2 separate regions of the Homo sapiens genome follow, and region 2 is linked to region 1. A link means that fine-mapping ties the variant in region 1 to the expression of a gene that starts in the linked region. Tissue or cell type: whole blood. Region 1 holds a variant in brackets; the other region holds the start of a gene. All regions are shown on one strand. Distances are between the middles of the regions.

Region 1 (10,072 bases):
GTACACAGGATAATAATAAGCCCAATGCAAAGGTCAAAGAGGGTTTAATGAAATAACATTGAAAGCAAAGCACGAGAAGGGAGCACCAGGAGAGTGGGGCTCTTGTCACGTTCATTGGGTTTCACATTGAGTTCTCCAGAAGCAGAGGCTGAGGCAGTTTGTTGCGTGGGATATTTATTAAAAGTCAGCACATGTGGGAGGGAGAAGGGGAAGGGGAGGCAAAATTGGGCAGAGGGTGAAGTTGAAGGACAGTGCAGCTGGACAAAGCCTCCCTAACCCTAGGAGCCATAAAGGCACGGCCTTTACCCCTGCCATGATCAGCCATTCCATGGCAGTTACCCAGGAAGGGTAAAGGAGCTCCTGTCTCGAGGCTCTGCTCTCAGCATTCATGGTAGCAGGAGCGAGCACCAAGTCCACGGATGAGGATCTCTGTGGCACATCTCCCTCCATGGGGTTTCCTGTCACCAACACCCAGCACACCTGGGAAAGAACAGTCCACATCTTTTGAAGGGCCTGGGAGGTGGTTCAAATAAGGGTTACTGTTGTCTTGCTGAGGTGGACTAGAAATAGAACACAAGCCGCCTGACTGTTGCTTTTGCTTTCACAGATAGCTCGCTGTTGTTTTTGCTTCAGTCCTGGTGGAGAGGGTAAGCAGAGCGCTTTTATTCTTTGCACCTGTGTGGCACTGCAGACCTATAACTCTAATCTGTAGTCATTTGGGATTCAGACACAAATAACTTGAATAGTAAGGAGAAAGTTTTATTCTAAAGCTGACTTACTACTTATACACTTTTCACATTCTTCCTGAAGGATAGCTGAGTTTTGTTTGTGTTGGTATTCTGGTAGAGAGAATCAGTCCAAATTTTGGTTTAAATGTAAGTTAAATTATACAGTGAGATTTAGAGAATCAGAGAGCACATTTTTTAAAAAGGAGTGATTTGGAAAATACCAAGAGGTCCTGACACCTTATTTTGGGGCCATTTCATTCCTTCACCTTACTTTCCAAGGTGGATTGGAGGATTCCAAGGGCTTGAGAACTAACTCTTGTTTTACTCTCACTTTCTGCTGAGCTTATAGTAAGTTTTACGTCTTTAAGGGTTTTTAAGGGTTCTCTTTCTGTTAAAATAAATGTGGCAGGGCAGGCACGGTGGCTTATGCCTGTAATCCCAGCACTTCGGGAGGCTGAGGTGGGTGGATCACCTGAGGTCAGGAGTTCGAGACCAGCCTGGCCAACATGGCAAAACCCTGTCTCTACTAAAAAACAATACAAAATTAGCCGGGCGTGGTGGCGTGTGCCTGTAATCCCAGCTACTTGGGAGGCTGAGGCAGGAGAATCGCTTGAACCTGGGAGGTGGAGGTTGCAGTGACCCAAGATCATGCCACTGTACTCCAGCCGGGGCAAAAAGAGTGAAACTCCATCTCAAAAAATAAATAAATAAAAATAAATGTGGCATTAGGTAACTCTTCCTGTTACGGAAGTTGCTAGGGTGGAGTGGGGGTTTTGTGCTTAGGGCACAGATTGAAGTTGCCAGAGGGTACAGATGGCTTTCTGGCATCTTTTCTACTGACAGCCCTGTAGAATTAGCGAGCGTGACTTTGCTGAATGGTAAACACACACATTCACTCATTGAGCCTGGGCTCCCTCTGTGCTTCACAGACACTGAAGAGCAGCAGCCGGGGAAGGAGGGACCACGGGTCATTTATGACGAGAAGAAAGGCACCGTCTACATCTACTCCTACTTCCACTTCGTGTTCTTCCTAGCTTCCCTGTATGTGATGATGACCGTCACCAACTGGTTCAAGTGAGTGGCCCATTTGCTTAGGTATTTTTGAAGCAAAGCCTTAAAGTTAAGAGTTAAGTACTGTTCGTGTTTGTTTGTTTGAGAAGGAGTCTCACTCTGTTGCCCAGGCTGGAGTGCAGTGGCACGATCCTGGCTCACTGCAACCTCTGCTTCCCAGGTTCAAGCGATTCTTGTGCCTCAGCCTCCCGAGTAGCTGGGATTACATGCATGTACCACCATGCCTAGCTAATTTTTATATTTTTAGTTGAGACGGGGTTTTGCCATGTTGGCCAGGCTGGTCTTGAACTCCTGACCTCAAGTGATCCACCTGCCTTGGCCTCTCAAAGTGCTGGGATTACAAGCGAGTTCTGAGTTTTAACAGTGGATGGGTATGTTTTAACCCTGGAAACTGGTGATGCTTATGGCAACTTTAAGAAAATGGAAAGTTAGCTCTATATGGACAGTCTGGAAAACATGGTAATGAAGGAAAAATAGGAACTCCTAAGCATTCATCTGCCTTTCAGAAAGAGAAAATATCCCTTTTTTTTCTACTTCAAATTTTGTGTATCTTTTTCCCCATTTTTCTTCATTTTCATTACAAAAATTGGAAACATCTTTTTTTAAAATACAAACTAAATGTGGAATTATGAAAAGTAACAATGTGGTACCCCCCCGCCTCTACTTCCCCCACACAGATAACCACTGCTAGGATGTGTATCCTTCTCCTTTTCTGTGCATTTATAAACCTCTGTAGTTTTTTTTTGTTTTTAGTTGGAGTCTTGCTTTGTCACCCAGGCTGGAGTGCAGTGGCGCAATCTCGGCTCACTGCAACCTCCGCCCCTGGGTTCAAGTGATTCTCCTGCCTCAGCCTTTTGAGTAGCTGGGATTACAGGTGCTGCCACCACACTGGCTAATTTTTTTTTTTATTATTTTTAGTAGAGACGGAGTTTCACCATATTGGCTAGGCTGGTCTCGAACTCCTGACCTTGTGATCCACCTGCCTCAGCCTCCCAAAGTGCTGAGATTATAGGCATGATCCACCATGTCCAGCTAATTTTTTTTTTAACATAAATGTCATTATACATGTTTTCCCCTGGAGGCTTTTTTTTTTTTAACTTGGCAGTACATGATTGACCTGGCCTTCCCTGGCACTACACAGAGGTTCATACTTTTTCTACAGGTCCACAGCTTTGGTTGTATCATAATTTTTTTGACCACTAAGTTAAGCTTAGACATGTAGGCTCATTGTGCTTCCTTTTATCATTCATTCAACAGATGTGCAAGTGGCTCCTATGTGCCACACGGTTCTATGAGGCAGGATTTATAGTCCAGCAGGAGAGACAGACTATGACGCAAGTCAAATATGGTGTGTTAGATGGTGATGAGTATTGGGGAGAAAAATAAAATTAGGAGAGGGAATTGGGGTAGGGGTGGTGGGAGTGGTGGTTTCAAGCACAGTGATTGGAGAGATTCTTCCTGAAGGAGGAGAGGAGAAGGGAGCTTTAATGCTTCCCAGTGATGCTTTGGGAACTCCTGGGAATTTTTGGCTTGGAAAGCTTAAGAAAAGATGGAGAAGGCTATAATTAAAAAGGCAGATAATAACAAATGTCGAGGAAGTGGAGAAATTGGAACCCTCTTACATTGCTGGTTTGAATGTGAAATCTGCTTTGGAAAAGAGTTTGGCATCTCCTTAAACAATTAAACATTGAGTTACAATGTAATCCAGCTCTTCCACTACTCCTGAGCGTATACCTAAGACAAAAAGAAAACTAGGTCCACAAAACTTACACAGCGGTGTTCATACAAGCATCATTGGTGATAATCAAAAAGGGGAAACATCCCAAATGACCATCAGCTGGTGACTGCCTAAACAAAATGTGCTCTATCCATACAATAAGATACTATTTAGCAGTAAAAAGGAATGAAGGACTGACACATGCTGCCGCGTGGCTGAGCCTTGGAAATTGTATGCCAGGCAAAAAAGCCACACACAAGAGACCATGTGATTCCTTTTATATCAACTGTCCAGAATAGGCAAATTCATAGAGGCAGAAAGTAGATTGGTGAATGCGGGGGGTGGGCTGAGGGGGCCATGGGGAAGGGGAGAGCACCTAAGGGGTGCATGATTTCTTTTGGGGGTGATGAGAATGTTTGGAAATGGGTAGTGTTGATGGTAGCACAAGTCTGTGTATGAATACATTGAAAGCCGTTGAATTATACATTATAAATGGATGTGAATTAGTGAATTGTATCTCAATATATTCCTGCTTTGACCGCGGCTAGGTGTCTTGTTTCCACAGCTACGAAAGTGCCAACATCGAGAGCTTCTTCAGCGGGAGCTGGTCCATCTTCTGGGTCAAGATGGCCTCCTGCTGGATATGCGTGCTGTTGTACCTGTGTACGCTGGTCGCTCCCCTCTGCTGCCCCACCCGGGAGTTCTCTGTGTGATGATATCGGCGGTCCCCTGGGCTTTGTGGGCCTACAGCCTGGAAAGTGCCATCTTTTGAACAGTGTCCCCGGGGCAGGGACTGGCGCCCTGTGCCTGAGTGGGTCTGAAAAAGCTTTGAGAGAGAAAAAAAAAAATCTCCTGATTAGCTTTTTACTTTTGAAATTCAAAAAGAAACTACCAGTTTGTCCCAAAGGAATTGAAATTTTCAACCAAACTGATCATGGTTGAAATATCTTACCCCTAGGAACTGGATACCAGTTATGTTGACTTCCTTCTGCATGTTTTTGCCAAAACAGAATTTGGGGCACAGCATCTTTTCACAGGGATAAAAATATCT[T/C]GTGGGGCCAGTCATTCTCATCCTCGGAATAGAAAAACATGCCAAAATCTTGAGTCCCCAGCGCCTAACAGAATCCAGACCCCTCTCACTCACTTCCGCCTCTTAGAGCCTTGTCCCCAGGGGGCTTTGAGGACAGGACTCAGCCTGCAGGGCCCCTGGTATTTATAGGGTCCAAGAGGAGGCACCTGCTTTTCAACTGCACCCTCAGTGCTGCCTCTTCACGGCCCCTAAACGTTTCCCTTTGAGGTTGTGATGCTGGGAATCACAGACTTCACTCTCTGCCTGCACCCTTCCCCGAGGTCTCATCTTTTCTGGGTCCCACATCTTTGTAATAATGTGAAAAAGCACAATTTGTCTGATCACCCCCCAGGTGGTTCCCCACCTTATTATCACTACCTGATCCGAGTTACTGCAATAAGTACGGCGCTTATTTATGGTGTTATTCACATGATTATAGAACAAGATTCATGTTTTCTCTGCCTAAGCAATGGAGGGCTATCATTCTTACTTGTTTGTGCTGTTGATAATGATAATACTTTTAGGACCTTAACTGAAAAGCTGCTTCGTGTTGAAGCCTGCTGCATGCACTGCTCTTTCAGTTGTTGAGGTCAGCCCCTCAGTTTTTTCTCCACCTTGAGGCCTTTGAAACTGTAAAAGCGGAAGTCGTTTTGTGTTCTGGATCTGTAACGTGACCATACCGTTCAGGTTCATGCTGGCATCCTTGGAGTAGGTTTGCTAATGTGAGAATTTCTGAGGTGAGGATCTCAGACACACTGACCAGAAGAAGCTTGTTAGGCAATGTGTGGAAGTGGCCGAATATACTTAAAAAGAGGTGCGCAGAGGCAGGCGGATCACTTGAGGTCAGGAGTTGCAAGACCAGCCTGGCTAACATGGTGAAACCCTGTCTCTATTAAAAATAGAAAAATTAGCCGGGCATGGTAGCGTGTGCCTGTAATGCCAGCTACTCGAAGGCTGAGGCATGAGAATCACTTGAACCCGGGAGGCGGAGGTTGCAGTGAGCCGAGATCACGCTGCACAGGAATTTCCAAAATACGTACTTGCAAAGTAATACAGAAACGTGACTTTCGGCAGCTACCCAAGATGATGCCTATTTTCAGTGTTGATGTATTCAGGCAGGGAAAAGGTTTACTTGGTGGAAACTCCTGTTAGAATTTCATTCGGGGTGGAAAGAATCTTCTCGAGCTCTCTGTAAGTGAGGATCTAAGAATAAAAGGCTCAGCCTAGTCATTTTTTTCTGTGCCCTACTGTATGAGTTGGGCAGAATTGAGTGCCACCTAAGCTGGGCTTCTGTGTGCCAAAATGCTGGTGGGTGAAATTAGTGAAATTCTTTCTATTCATTCCTTTGCCCTTCTCCCAAGAAAACCCATGGGGAAACAAATTACAGGGGATGAATTCCTTTAGAACTTTCCCTACTTAGAGTGTTTGAGATTCAGTTTCAAAAGGCACTCCATCTGTGTGTGTGGTTTAGAGAGCCTTGTTTTGTAAATTCCATTAAATTTCCTTTTTTAGGGCAGGAGCTCTGTACTCAGCAGTTAAAAGATTCATCTGGAGTCGCAAAATGAAAAGCCGTGTTCTAACCTGAGGAATCAGTTAGGGGACAGGAGTTCCGTGGGCCAGGAATGGGCTCAGGGAGTGGGGCTGCGTGTCACACACAGTAGCTGTGTTGCAGTGGCCTAGGGCCTTGGGGGTTGTCTTTAGGAAACACCCTGAGGGGAAGCAGGTAAAGAGCCTGGGCAGTATTGTGACTAGTTTCATTGTTTTCCTCCTGCTGAGGTCTAGCAGAGCCCTTGCTTTGTCCTCTCGGCTGGGTCTGGCTGCCAGCTGGTGTGATTTGAGAAACTGACCTTACGCGCAGTCAAGGTCCAGCTGACAAGGCCTTGTATTCCTTGGCTGGCCGTGATTGGCCCTTTCCTCTGCAGAAAGCAGCTTAGGGAAGCCCAAGCAAGGGAGTGTGGCCGGTAGAAGGCCCTCGTCGCTTCCTTCTGGAGCCAGCCCAGCCACACAACGTTTTCCAGATGCGTGAGTCTGGTTTGTGACATCCCGTTCCCTTCTGCCGGTTGGTCTGATGCAAGAGGAAGAGTTACAGTTGCTCTGAATTTTATTCTCAGCTGAAAATGTTAGCACGTGTATCTGGATGAACAAAACAGATGTGGATGTATCTGAGGATTGAGGGACTATCAATGCAGAGTTAATGTTAATGGTTATTAATTGTGATATACAATACTCAGGTGAGGAGTCAACATTCCTGGATTTAAAGAATCTACAGTTTTGTGCAATTGTGATTTGAGAAACTGGAAACATTGTGCCAATGGCTTTGAGTTCCTATAACAACGGTGTTAATTTGATTAACTCACTGATATCTTTTAAAAATAATAGACATTTGCTTCCTACACCTTTTTGTACATGACCTAAAGAGTATATTCCCAGAAGCTGCTGGTCAGACACATTTAGGGATGACAGTTGAAGAGGACTTTTTTAAAGCTGCATGTGAATATTTCCTCTGTGTGATTTGTCTGATGTAGAAAAGTTTTCCCCTCATTTTTATGAGTAAAAACACTAAGTGGGTGGCAGGGGGGTGGGGGTTCTTATGGGAGTGTCATACCGCGGCATGTTACCTGACTGGAGACTAGAGACTATTTCCATTATAAGCCTTCAGAAACCCAACCACGTCTTTACTGTGTCTAGCTTTTTAAATACTGATTGGTTAGTTTTATTTTTGCCCACAGTTTCTTGGGCAAAAAGGTTCTTCATTTTGTCTGAAAAAGAAATTATTTGCCAGAGGTATTTGGAGCCTCTTTGAAGGGGAGATAGAGTGGGGGTGGGTTGTGGGGAGGGTGGAGTTATTGGGGTTTTGGGGTTCTGTTTCCATACAACATTGTTTATTTCCGATTCCTCAGAAGATCCTTTATTATGAATAACCTCAGTGTAATGTTAATTTCCTGTCCCCATGTCAAAATTGTCACCCTAAGCCTTTTTTTTTTTTTTTTTTTTTTTTTTTGGAGACGGGCTCACTCTGTCAGCCACGCTGGAGTGCAGTGACATGATCTTGACTCATGGCAGGCTTGACCTCCTGGGCTCAAGGACCACCTCCCAAGTAGCTGAGACCACAGGTTTGCCCCATCACACCTGGCCGATTTTTATTTTTTTGTAGAGATGGGGTTGTCCAGGCTGGTCTCAAACTCCTGAGCTCAAGCAATGTGCCCGCCTTGGCTTCCCAAAGTGCTGGGATTATAGGCGTAAACCACTGCACGCAGCCTACCCTCTGCCTTTTTAAGATGATGTATTTATTTAATTTTTGCCATCATTGGTGCTTCACCTTCCTGCGAAGGAAATTCCAGAGCCTGTATTTAAGCTACCTAGGCTTTTACACTCCCTTTATTGCCTTTCCAAATAGTATCTCATTTGGTGTACTCTAGTGTCCTATACCTCTTGGAAACGAAAGAGGGCCCAACCTACAACTAAGAAGGGACAAACCTTGAACTAAGTAAGACCTTACACACCCAGAAAGAACACTGGGCCCTCCTTCTTCAGGGACAATGCAGTAGCCACTTGGCTTGTGGAATTTACTGAAGGCTATTTCCTGTAACTTGCTAGTTAACTTAGTTTTGTATTTCAGGCAGAGGTGCGCTCTGTAATGTTGGGCCTTTGACTTCACAGTACTGGAGAGCTGTTCACACAGATGTTTAGACCTTTCTCTCTCTCTCTCTTTTCTTCTTTCTCAACAACTCTTTCACAGAGGCAGTCATTTTGAAAGGTTGAAATATTTGGCCTTTACCAAAGAGCTTTTTTTTTCCTTAAGCAAAATCCTTTCAGAAAGAAACAAATGGGGAAGGGCAGATTAAGAATGCATATGTCCCAATCCACTTCTATAGGAGTTTAATCATATTCACATGAGTAAAATGATGGAAGAACTCTTTAAGGTAATCCTTTGGGATAAAGGATCCTGGGAAGTTCTCTCAGGTAAAGAAAGCTTACAGCAGATTTGTAATATATGTCTGGAGAGCTATTTATAAGAAATTTAAGAGGATTGTTTTGTTTTCCTTTATTAAAGATTTAAGCCTTTTTACTTTGCAAAAAGAAAACTACAAAAGTTTTATAGATATAACTTTGCTAATTTTTTAAACTTTTCTGAAACGATTAGCTGTAGCCAAATTATGTGGTTACGTTTTGCTACATTAGAATTTGAAAATGCAATATGTGTGGTAAATCTACTGTTTGAAATTTATAATGGTCTCTGATATGATTCGAATTTTGGTAACTTTTGAAAGTTATTTTCCCCCTTTAGTCATGGATTTCTATTTGTTTTTTAATGTTAATTTTTCTAGAAAGCATCTGAATTGACTAGGCTTTTCCTATATAAAAAACTCAAAACTTGTTAACTCTGTACTTTAATAAAATTTAAAATTAAAACTGTGTTGTTTTTTTCTCTTCTGCTAGATACATATATAATTAAAGTACTCAAGTTAGTTGTTTTGCAGAGATGTTGCCTTCAGATGTTAATCAGGTCTCTCAAGTTTCATGGAGTCTATGCTGATCCTTTAATTGACAAATAAAAGATATATATCTGTGGTGTGCAACATGATGTTTTGAAATATGTATATATTCAGGAATAGCCAAATCATGCTAATTAGCATATGCATTACCTCATGTTTTTGTGCTGAGAACATTTAAAATCTACTCACAGTAATTTTTTTTTTCTGTTTTTTTGGAGACAGAGTCTTGCTCTGTCACCCAGGCTGGGGTACAGTGGCGCGATCTCGGCTCACTGCAACCACCGCCTCCCAGGCTCAAGCGATTCTCTTGCCTCAACCTCCCGAGTAGCTGGGATTACAGGCATGTGCTATCATGCCCAGGTAATTTTTGTATTTTTAGTAGAGATGGGGTTTTGCCATGTTGGCCAGGCTGGTCTTGAACTCCTGACTACAGGTGATCTGCCCACCTCAGCCTCCCAAAGTGCTGGGATTACAGACGTGAGCCACCGTGCCCGGCCTACTCTCAGAATTTTTAAGGTACAGTGCCAGGTTCCTAACTCTAGTCACCGTGTTACACAGTAGATCTCCTGAACTTCTGGCTGATATTTTGTGTTCTTTGACCAACATCACCCTGAACTCCCCCCTCGCCCAGTCCCCCACCTCCAGCCCCTAGTAACCACCTTTACACTCTGCATCTCTTAAGTCAAACTTAGGAAGTTTGACTTTTTAAGATTTCATGGATCAGTAAGATCATGAAGCATTTGTCTTTTTGTGCCTGGCTTATTTTACTTAACCGTGTCTTCTAGGTTCCTCCAAATTGTTGCATATTGCAGGAGTTCCTTCTTTTTGAGGCTGAATTTTTTATTGTGTATATATACCACTTTTCCTTTTTTTGAGACAGAGTCTCACTCTGTCACCCAGGCTGGAGTACAGTGACATCATGGCTTATTTTGGCCTTGACTTCTTGGACTCAAGCAATCCTCCTGCCTCAGCCTCCCGAGCAGCTGGGACC
Region 2 (8,323 bases), 58 kb after region 1:
ATATATTTATAACAATATACTATGCTAATTTGTAATACATTATAAACTAAATTTAAATTGCATTTATAATGTTTTATTTTTATGTCACTTGTCTGACAAAACCTGCCTACGCACTTAAATAACCCTTGTAAATTAAAAAAATTTATACAGTGGATTATAAATTATCTGAACCACCTCAGTATCATTTACATATTCAACCAAATTCTCCCTACCTTCTGATTTAAAATCAGAAGTCTGAAATCAAATACTCAACTACAGACAATCCCCAACTTATAATGGTTTGACTTAAGATTTTTTTGACTTTATGATGGGCTTATCAAGATATTAAATGCCATGCTGGCTAACACGGTGAAACCCCATCTTTACTAAAAAAATACAAAAAATTAGCTGGGTGTGGTGGTGGGTGTCTGTGGTCCCAGCTACTCGGGAGGCTGAGGCAGAAGAATGGCGTGAAGCCAGGAGGCGGAGCTTGCAGTGAGCCGAGATCGCACCACTGCACTCCAGCCTGGGCGAGAGAGCAAGACTCCATCTAAAAAAAAAAAAAAAAAAAAAAATATATATATATATATATATATATATATAAAATGCATTTTCACTTATGATATTTCTGACTTGCCGTGGGTTTATCCCAGGATGTAACTACATGGTAAGTAAGGGAGCATCTGTATGCATTTTAAACTAGAATCCCACATTGAATTTATTGCATTCTGTATGCCAAATTCTCTTAGATATTTCAAGTACTTTGGCACATATACAAACATAATTCCCAAGCACCACACAAAAATATTAGGATGATGGGTCCAATTGACTTCAGCATATCTGTACTTAGTTCTACAATTGTAGAATTATTTCTCAGGAATAAAAGACCCTTCTCCACTAAGGAAACTCTACTGCCTCAGGAAATTTGGGGTGCATGTCAATTGTCTGAGGTTATTAACCAACGATTTGGGCGAGGTGGTAAAATGTGGAGCTTGTAGGAGGCATTCCTTATTCCTGAAGGAAAGGTTGTCTTTTACAGAAAACACAATTTATGGTGACTTTGGTTTTAAAATTAGTATCTGATTAAAGTTACAAATTACAAAACCTTAAGTTAAAAAATTCAACTTAAAAATCGTATTACTTTACTATATTCTATAAATATGCAAATCTACTTATTACTCTATAGCAAAATATATAATCACTTTTAGGCTTTTGATTAATGTTTAGTCCCATTTGCAAACTTAATTAAATTTCCTTAAACACTCTAAATCCCATTTATAAATGTAATATATTAATTTATGACATACTATGCTAATTTGTAACATTAAAAACAATATATTTAAATTTCATTTATGCATTTTTTTGTCATTTGATGAAACCTACCTATGTGCTTATATAACTTGTAAATTTAAAAAATGTATATAATGGATGAGAAATTATCTTAATCATCTCAATATTTTCATATTCAACCAAATTCTCCTACCTTCTGACTTAAAATCACAAGTCTAAAATCAAATACTATCTTTGGGAGGCCAAGGCAGGAGGATCATTTGAGCCCAGGAGTTTGAGACCAGCCTGGGCAACACAGTAAGACCCCATCTTTACAAAAAAAAATAGAAAAAATTAGCTGGATATGGTGGTATGAGCCTGTAAGTCTTAGCTACTTGGAAGGCTGAGGTGGAAGGACTATTTGAGCCAGGAGGTTGAGGCTGCAGTGAGCTGAGACTGCACCACTGCACTGCAGCCTGAGCGACAGTGAGATCCTGTCTCAATAATACTAATAATGATGATGATGATAAACCAAATATTCAACTATAAACAACTCCCAACTAATGATGGTTTGACGATTTTTATCAAAACATAACCCTATTTAAATTGAGGAGTATCTGGACTTCATGATGGATGACTTAAACTTTTGACTTGGGTTTATTGGAGTACTAAATGCACTTTGGACTTAAGATATGTTCAACTTACGGATTTATTAGGACATAGCCCCATTTTAAGGTGAAGAGCATCTGTCTGCATTCTATACTGGAATCACAAGTTCAATTTGCATTCTCTAATTATGCCAAATTCTCTTAGATATTTCAAGTACGTTGCCACATATTCAAACATAATTCCCCAACACCACACAAAAATATTAGGATGATGGGTCCAATTTACTTCATCATCTCTATACTTAATTCTATAGTACTAGAATTATTTCTCTGGAATAAAACACCCTCACCCACTGTGGAAACTATACTGCCCCAGGAAATTTGGGGTGAGCGTCTCTGTCTCCTGAGGTTGCCTATGACCAAATTGGGCGGGGCTGTAAGATGCGGAGCTGTGGACACTGCAGGGGGTTTCTTCATGCCACTGAAAGGTTGAGCCACCCTTACAGTCCCGATGTTACTGGGGACCCCAGGCGTGTATCCCAAACAGGGGCACCCCACCTCTCACCCCTAGATTTATGCTGTACAGTATCTAGTTTGCCCACGGCCTCACTTCTGGACCAGATTCTTTTTTGCTGCTTGAGTCTGTTCCCAGTTATCTTCTAGCCTAGGCAATAAAAAATGCCTACAGATGTTTCAATAGCAGGTGGCTGGATTCTATATCTTCCTCATTCTCTTTAACTCTATAGCCTGTCTCCAAAATTAACCTAAGGATAATCACCATAATACTTCTGGAGCCTAGGACTAATAACCTGGATGGGGAGAAGGAAGAGTTTTTTTTTCCTTTTTCTTGAGTGTAGGCAAAAAGGGCTGCACATCCCTTTGTGCACCTGCTCCCATGCCCCCAGGCCTCCTCTGGCTGCCCCCAGTGCCCTCATCCTGCCCCCAGAGATCTCCCACACTTCCCGTGGGATTCTACTCAGCCATGATCTTTTCCCTACAGTGACAATGCCTCTTTTCTTTCCCAGCCACGCCTCCCATTCCCCCACAGTGACAATGCCTCTTTTCTTTCCCAGCCACGCCTCCCATTCCCCCAGTACTTAAAAAAAAAAAAAAAAAGTGAGACAGGATCTTGCTATGTTGCCCATGCTGGACTTGAACTCCTGGGCTCAAGTGATCCTCCCCATTCAGCCTCCCAGGTAGCCAGGACCACAGGTGCACACCACCATGCCCAGCTCCTCAGTCTTCTCGATCTCCATGAAAAGTCAGGAGGTGAATGGGCATTGGAATGAATTCATACTAGTTGGTGAGAGACTGATGGCCACTCAGTCCTAGAGGTGTAAGATTCAAATGAGGCTCTTACTAACCTAATGGAACTGTAATAGGAATTTGAGTCATTGTGCTAAGGTTGAGTATAACAAGTATCCAAGAAGCCCAGGGAGTTACCTGGGGGAGAGCATACCACACCTGCTAGCTCATCCCGTCAGTCTGCAACTGGCTAGCTTCTCTCAAGTGCTTCCTGATTTTCACTTTTTTTTTTTTTTGTTTTTGTTTTTGGAGACACGTCTTGCTCTGTCGCCCAGGCTGGAGTGCAGTGGCACGATCTCAGCTCACTGCAACCTCCGCCTCCCGGGTTCAAGAGATTCTTGTGCTTCAGCCACCTGAGGAGCTGGGAGTATAGGCAGGAGCCACTGCACCTGGCCTAATTTTTGTATTTTTAGTAGAGATGGGGTTTTACCATGTTGGCCAGACTGGTCCCAAACTCCTGACCTCAAGCGATCCTCCCACCTAGGCCTCCCAAAGTGCTAGGATTACAGGTGTGAGCCATAGCACCCCACCCATTTTCACTTTTCTTACTTCATTTCTTATGCAAGAAATTTTCTGAAAGCCTCAAGTTTTCTACATCAGCTTCAAAAATATAAGGAGGGCCAACTAGGAATAGGACAAGGTAGAATAATCACTTGTGTGCTGATAAATATTTAACAACCAGTTCTCTGGAGCCCTGATTTGTAGTGTTTGCCAGTTTCTGTGTAAATACTCCCACCATGGCCAATTTCAAACTACCAACCGTTTAACTGGCTCACAATATTCCTAAAACTTGAATAGTTGGCTCTTATGAGCTGGTAGGAGTTGGCTTCAGCACACTGCTGGTTCTACATGCGTCTTTGTTTCTTGTTTTGCATAAATAACAAGTTTTGTCTTCCCAAAAATGTAATAAGCTCCCTAAGGGATGGAATTATGTTCTGGATCTCCTGTGGGCCCATGGTTTCTAAAATAGTTATAGACACAAAAGATTTAACCAAGAGAGTCTGTTTCCTGTGGACATACTGCGTTCTTGGGCTTGCACAGCCGACAACAGGGAGGCTGCCCCAGGGGTGGGCATGGTGTGGGTTGCTGCCTCCTTTCACCAGCCTCACTCTCATTGCCCAGGCTGGAGTACAGTGGTGCAATCTCTGCTCACTGCAGCCTCTGCCTCCCCAGCTCAAGTGATTCTCCCACTTCAACCTCCCAAATAGCTGGGACTATAGGCAAGTGGCACCACACCTGGCTAATTTTTGTATTTTTAGTAGAGATGGGTTTCGCCACGTTGGCCAGGCTGGTCTTGAACTCCTGGCCTCAAGTGATCTGCCTGCCTTGGCCTCCCAAAGTGCTTGGGACCACAGGCAAGTGCCACCACACCTGGCCCCATTGGAGTTTTTGATGTAGGAGATCAGATGTCCTGGATTACAAGGCCACACACATCTCCAGGCTGTACATGAGAGGAGGATGTCCAGAAATCCTCCAGATCTCATGCATGCACCATTGTATTTTCTCACTGTTAAAGTCATGATAAAACTGTGGTGTTTTTTTCTTCATACATGATTTAATATATCTCTAGGAATTCTGGAATAAGAAAATATATAACCGCACAGCAATATTCTTTGAAACAAAATTTCTAGAGAATTTATAAAAATTTGCTTGGATCTTGATTTACAATTGAAATACAAGAAAGGCTAGTGTACAAATTAGGCAAGTTTCTGTGCTGTACATCCAGCTACTGGTACCACAAATAGAGGATATGTTGTGACTTTTTGAGTTGAGGAGGACTTTTATGATCATGTACACTCTACTGTCCTTTAAGAGGCATTCATTCATTCATTCTTCGTTTATTAATTCAGTAAACATTTACTGGCTATTTACTACATTCCAGGTACTGTGGGGATATTGATTGTAATGACATGATCCTTTATTGTCAATATGCTTACAGTCCACTAGGGGGAGCCAAATATATAAATAAGCTTAAGAATTACGTTGAAGGGGCCAGAATAGAAGTCTGTGGAAGGTGTGGGATGGGATGACAGCATCAGAAAGAATTGGGCAAATCTGTCCCAGGACTAGGTCAGAAAAACGCCTCCCTAGGGAAGGTGCCACCCCAAACACGTGTTTCTGAGACCCCTTACCCGAAATAAGGAGGCTGCCAAGGTGAGCATGGAACGGTTAGGCGTTTTGTATGGAGCAAACTGGGGGGACCCCAGCTGAGACCTCTGGCCTGGGCCTTGTGATTCACGCATAGGCTCATCTTATCGGCCACCGGGTCTGAGAAGAAACTACCACCCTGCAAGTTAACAGGGATCCCTCCGAGAACGGGCACCTCAAAGCCTGAGCCACGTGAGAGCAATGTCTGAGCAACACGGTTTTTAAAAATGATCTCTTCTCCTTTATTGCCACATTCACATAAAACGTTTTGATATATTTGGGTTGGTAAAAGCTAAAGAAAATTGAAGTTAAAATATATATGGTTTTAGTGTTCCGAAAAGCAGTTACAGATTGCTTCCTTGGTTTAATTATCGAAGCGGTCGAAATTCTGGGTTTGAAACTCTTGGAAGTCCTCAGGGATGGTGTCTGCAATAGGAATGGGCACAGGGAGGTTAGCGAGGCTCCTTCCACCCCGGACCCCGGACCCCCGCCCGCGGCTCAGGCGTCCTGTAGGGGGCGCTGTTAGCCCGCCCAGGACGCCCCGCAGGCCCTCGCCGCCATTTTCTCCTGCAGGCTGCTTTGCAAACCGTTGGCTTAAAGCCCAGGAGTGCTCCTTCCCGGCCGTGCAGAAAATCAGCAGGCAGAATGGATTTTGCATCTGTGATTATGTTTTAACCACATGAAAATAAAGGCTTCCTGTAAATTAAATCTGACTGGATTTCTCACTGAACCCCAAACCCTAAACCATGCAGTTAAATTCTATGGGTCTTAATTTCCACATGGATAAAATAGGATAAATGTGATCTGCTTTTTACTTCTGGTACACAGGGACTATCAGGTTTTAATGACTATGTGGTATGAGCGTTGGGCTTTTGGGGGGGAAGTGCGGTATAAAAATAAGGTGGCAGTGTTTGACTAATTCTAGTAACAATGTTGAACAGTAACGAGAATGCACATTACCATTGCAGCGATACTTGAGGTTGGACCAGATGATGTTTTCTTGAGAGAAGCAGAAAACGCCAAGTCGGCCTCCACGCATTGTGGTGTCTATGGTGACGCCAGAGTCAGCCACCAACTCAGAGCCTTCATAAAATCGTACCCTGCGGACAACACGGCCGGAGGGGCCTCCATGAAATCCAACCCGGGGTAAAGTGCCCACTGTGAGGCCCAGGGGCCCCACTTCTTATACGTACCTGCGTCTTTCTTTGCTCTGTTTTAGGCTCCATTTTTCGCTGACCTGGATTGTACTGTAGCTGTTGCCACTTACTTACTAGACTGGAAGTCCTTGAGGGCAGGGACCGTGTGTGTCCGTGTGTGTGTGGAGGGGGGTGGGGGGTGTTTCTTCCCAACTTCTGTCTCTCACAAGGCCTAACATGATGTTGGTCACACTATCAAACTTGAGTTAAAAATCAAACCAAACCAAACCTGCTATCTTGAGTGAGAAAGTTTTGTGTCTTATTGTCATGTGAGTTGCCTTGTCTAGATACCATGCTTAAAAACTTTGGCTTTTCCTTTGGTCTGATTTATATCTTTTGGTGGAATCTCAGAGCAATGATTCTCCACAGGAGACAGCACTCCCTAAGTAGAGTTGGAGGAATCTGTGGGGACACTTTGGGTTGTCACAGTGGCACTGAGTGATGGCAGCCAGGGATGCTGGATGGCGAGCAATGCCCTGGCGAGAACAATCAAAACCTGTCCTGCATTCCATACACTTCTGGAGTGTTCCTCAGACACCAGGGTAGGTAAAGAGCAACTATCAGGGCCTAGAACCTGACTCACTTTCACTTGTAAACAGCAAGTATATTTTGCACAAATTTTAATATAAACTATATTTTCCAGGGTAAATTGAGAAAATTTGTTTGAAAATTAACATTCTAAAATGTGTACCATTTGAGAAATTTACATTGCTGTCATCAACCAGTGTAACAAACATTTAAGTCACTGACACAACAGTCTGTTAGAATGTCACCTTCGTAGTGATTCTAGGCATGGGTGCAAGTGTCTGTTTCATTTTGTCTTCTGGTGTGGCTGTGCTCAAATATTTAAATTATTTTGTTATAAATTATTCTTATTTCTCTATGATATTGTTAGGGCTCACATTGATTTTCTAGATTATACGTGTAGGTAGGTTGTAATTTCTATGATTCCATTTTGGGACGGAAAAGGGGGCATTTCAAAATATTTATAATAAAAAAGGGGCATTGGGCTTAATAGGGCTGAGAACATGATCATCTCACTGTGAGACAAAAAGAGTACATTTGACATAATGTCACAAAGAGAAACAAAACATGAATTTGCCCTCATGATTTTCTTTTTTCCACAAGGCTGCTTTCCTGCCCTGATGAGGAGAATGCACTCAGTACTCCTTCCTAAATATCCTACATAGGCTAGGATGGGTGTTGATCTGCAAGTTCAAATGAAGAAGAACACTATCTACATTTCAAAGACACAGCCCTAAGCCTCCTAACTCCCGAGAATACTTAAAAAACAACAACAAAAAAGTCCTATAAAGAAAGAAGTCAGACTACTTTGGCCTACATGATGATCAGTTCATGCCACGTGTAGTAGATGTCAGGCTTTGTGCTAGGCACTGGGGAGATCAAGATAAAATAATAAGCTATGGCTAGGCACAGTGGCCCATGCCTGTAATCCCAGCACTTTGGGAGGCCGAGGCGGGTGGATCACGAGGTCAGGAGATCAAGACCAGCCTGGCCAGCATGGTGAAACCCCATCTCTACTAAAAATACAAAAATTAGCCTGGCGTGATGGCGCGTGCCTGTAATCCCAGCTACTCGGGAGGCTGAGGCAGAAGAATCACTTGAACCAGGAAGGCGGAGGTTGCAGTGAGCTGAGATCACGCCACAGTACTCCTGCCTGGCAACAGAGTGGGATTCCGTCTCCAAAAAAAAAAAAAAAAAAAAAAAAAGATACAAGCGCTGCTCTCATGCAGTTTGTGATCCAGCAGGGAAGACAGACTGTAAGGGACATAGTGCTGCAGTCAGGGTGAAATGTGC

The links. PIP is the estimated chance that this variant, and not a neighbour inherited with it, causes the effect.
Region 2: it holds the start of THBS4-AS1, and the variant in region 1 is fine-mapped to the expression of THBS4-AS1 in whole blood (TOPMed, PIP 0.94).

The regions. Positions count from the first base shown.
Region 1 is chr5:80,137,820-80,147,891 of GRCh38, reverse strand. SERINC5 (serine incorporator 5) reads left to right here. Exons shown (of 12, transcript NM_001174072.3): 10 at 608-647; 11 at 1,658-1,802; 12 at 4,082-9,165. The coding sequence ends at 4,229. Among named protein-coding and RNA genes, the nearest start is that of THBS4-AS1, 59 kb to the right of the region's middle. RefSeq lists an enhancer at 1,891-2,392. The variant T/C (reference allele first, on the strand shown) is at 4,568.
Region 2 is chr5:80,080,492-80,088,814 of GRCh38, reverse strand. THBS4-AS1 (THBS4 antisense RNA 1) reads left to right here and starts at 5,150. Exons shown (of 8, transcript NR_109930.1): 1 at 5,150-5,315; 2 at 6,278-6,455. It overlaps THBS4 (thrombospondin 4), which reads right to left. Exons shown (of 22, transcript NM_003248.6): 21 at 6,270-6,409; 22 at 5,528-5,735. The coding sequence ends at 5,674. RefSeq lists an enhancer at 2,695-2,989 and silencers at 4,422-4,636, 5,752-5,841.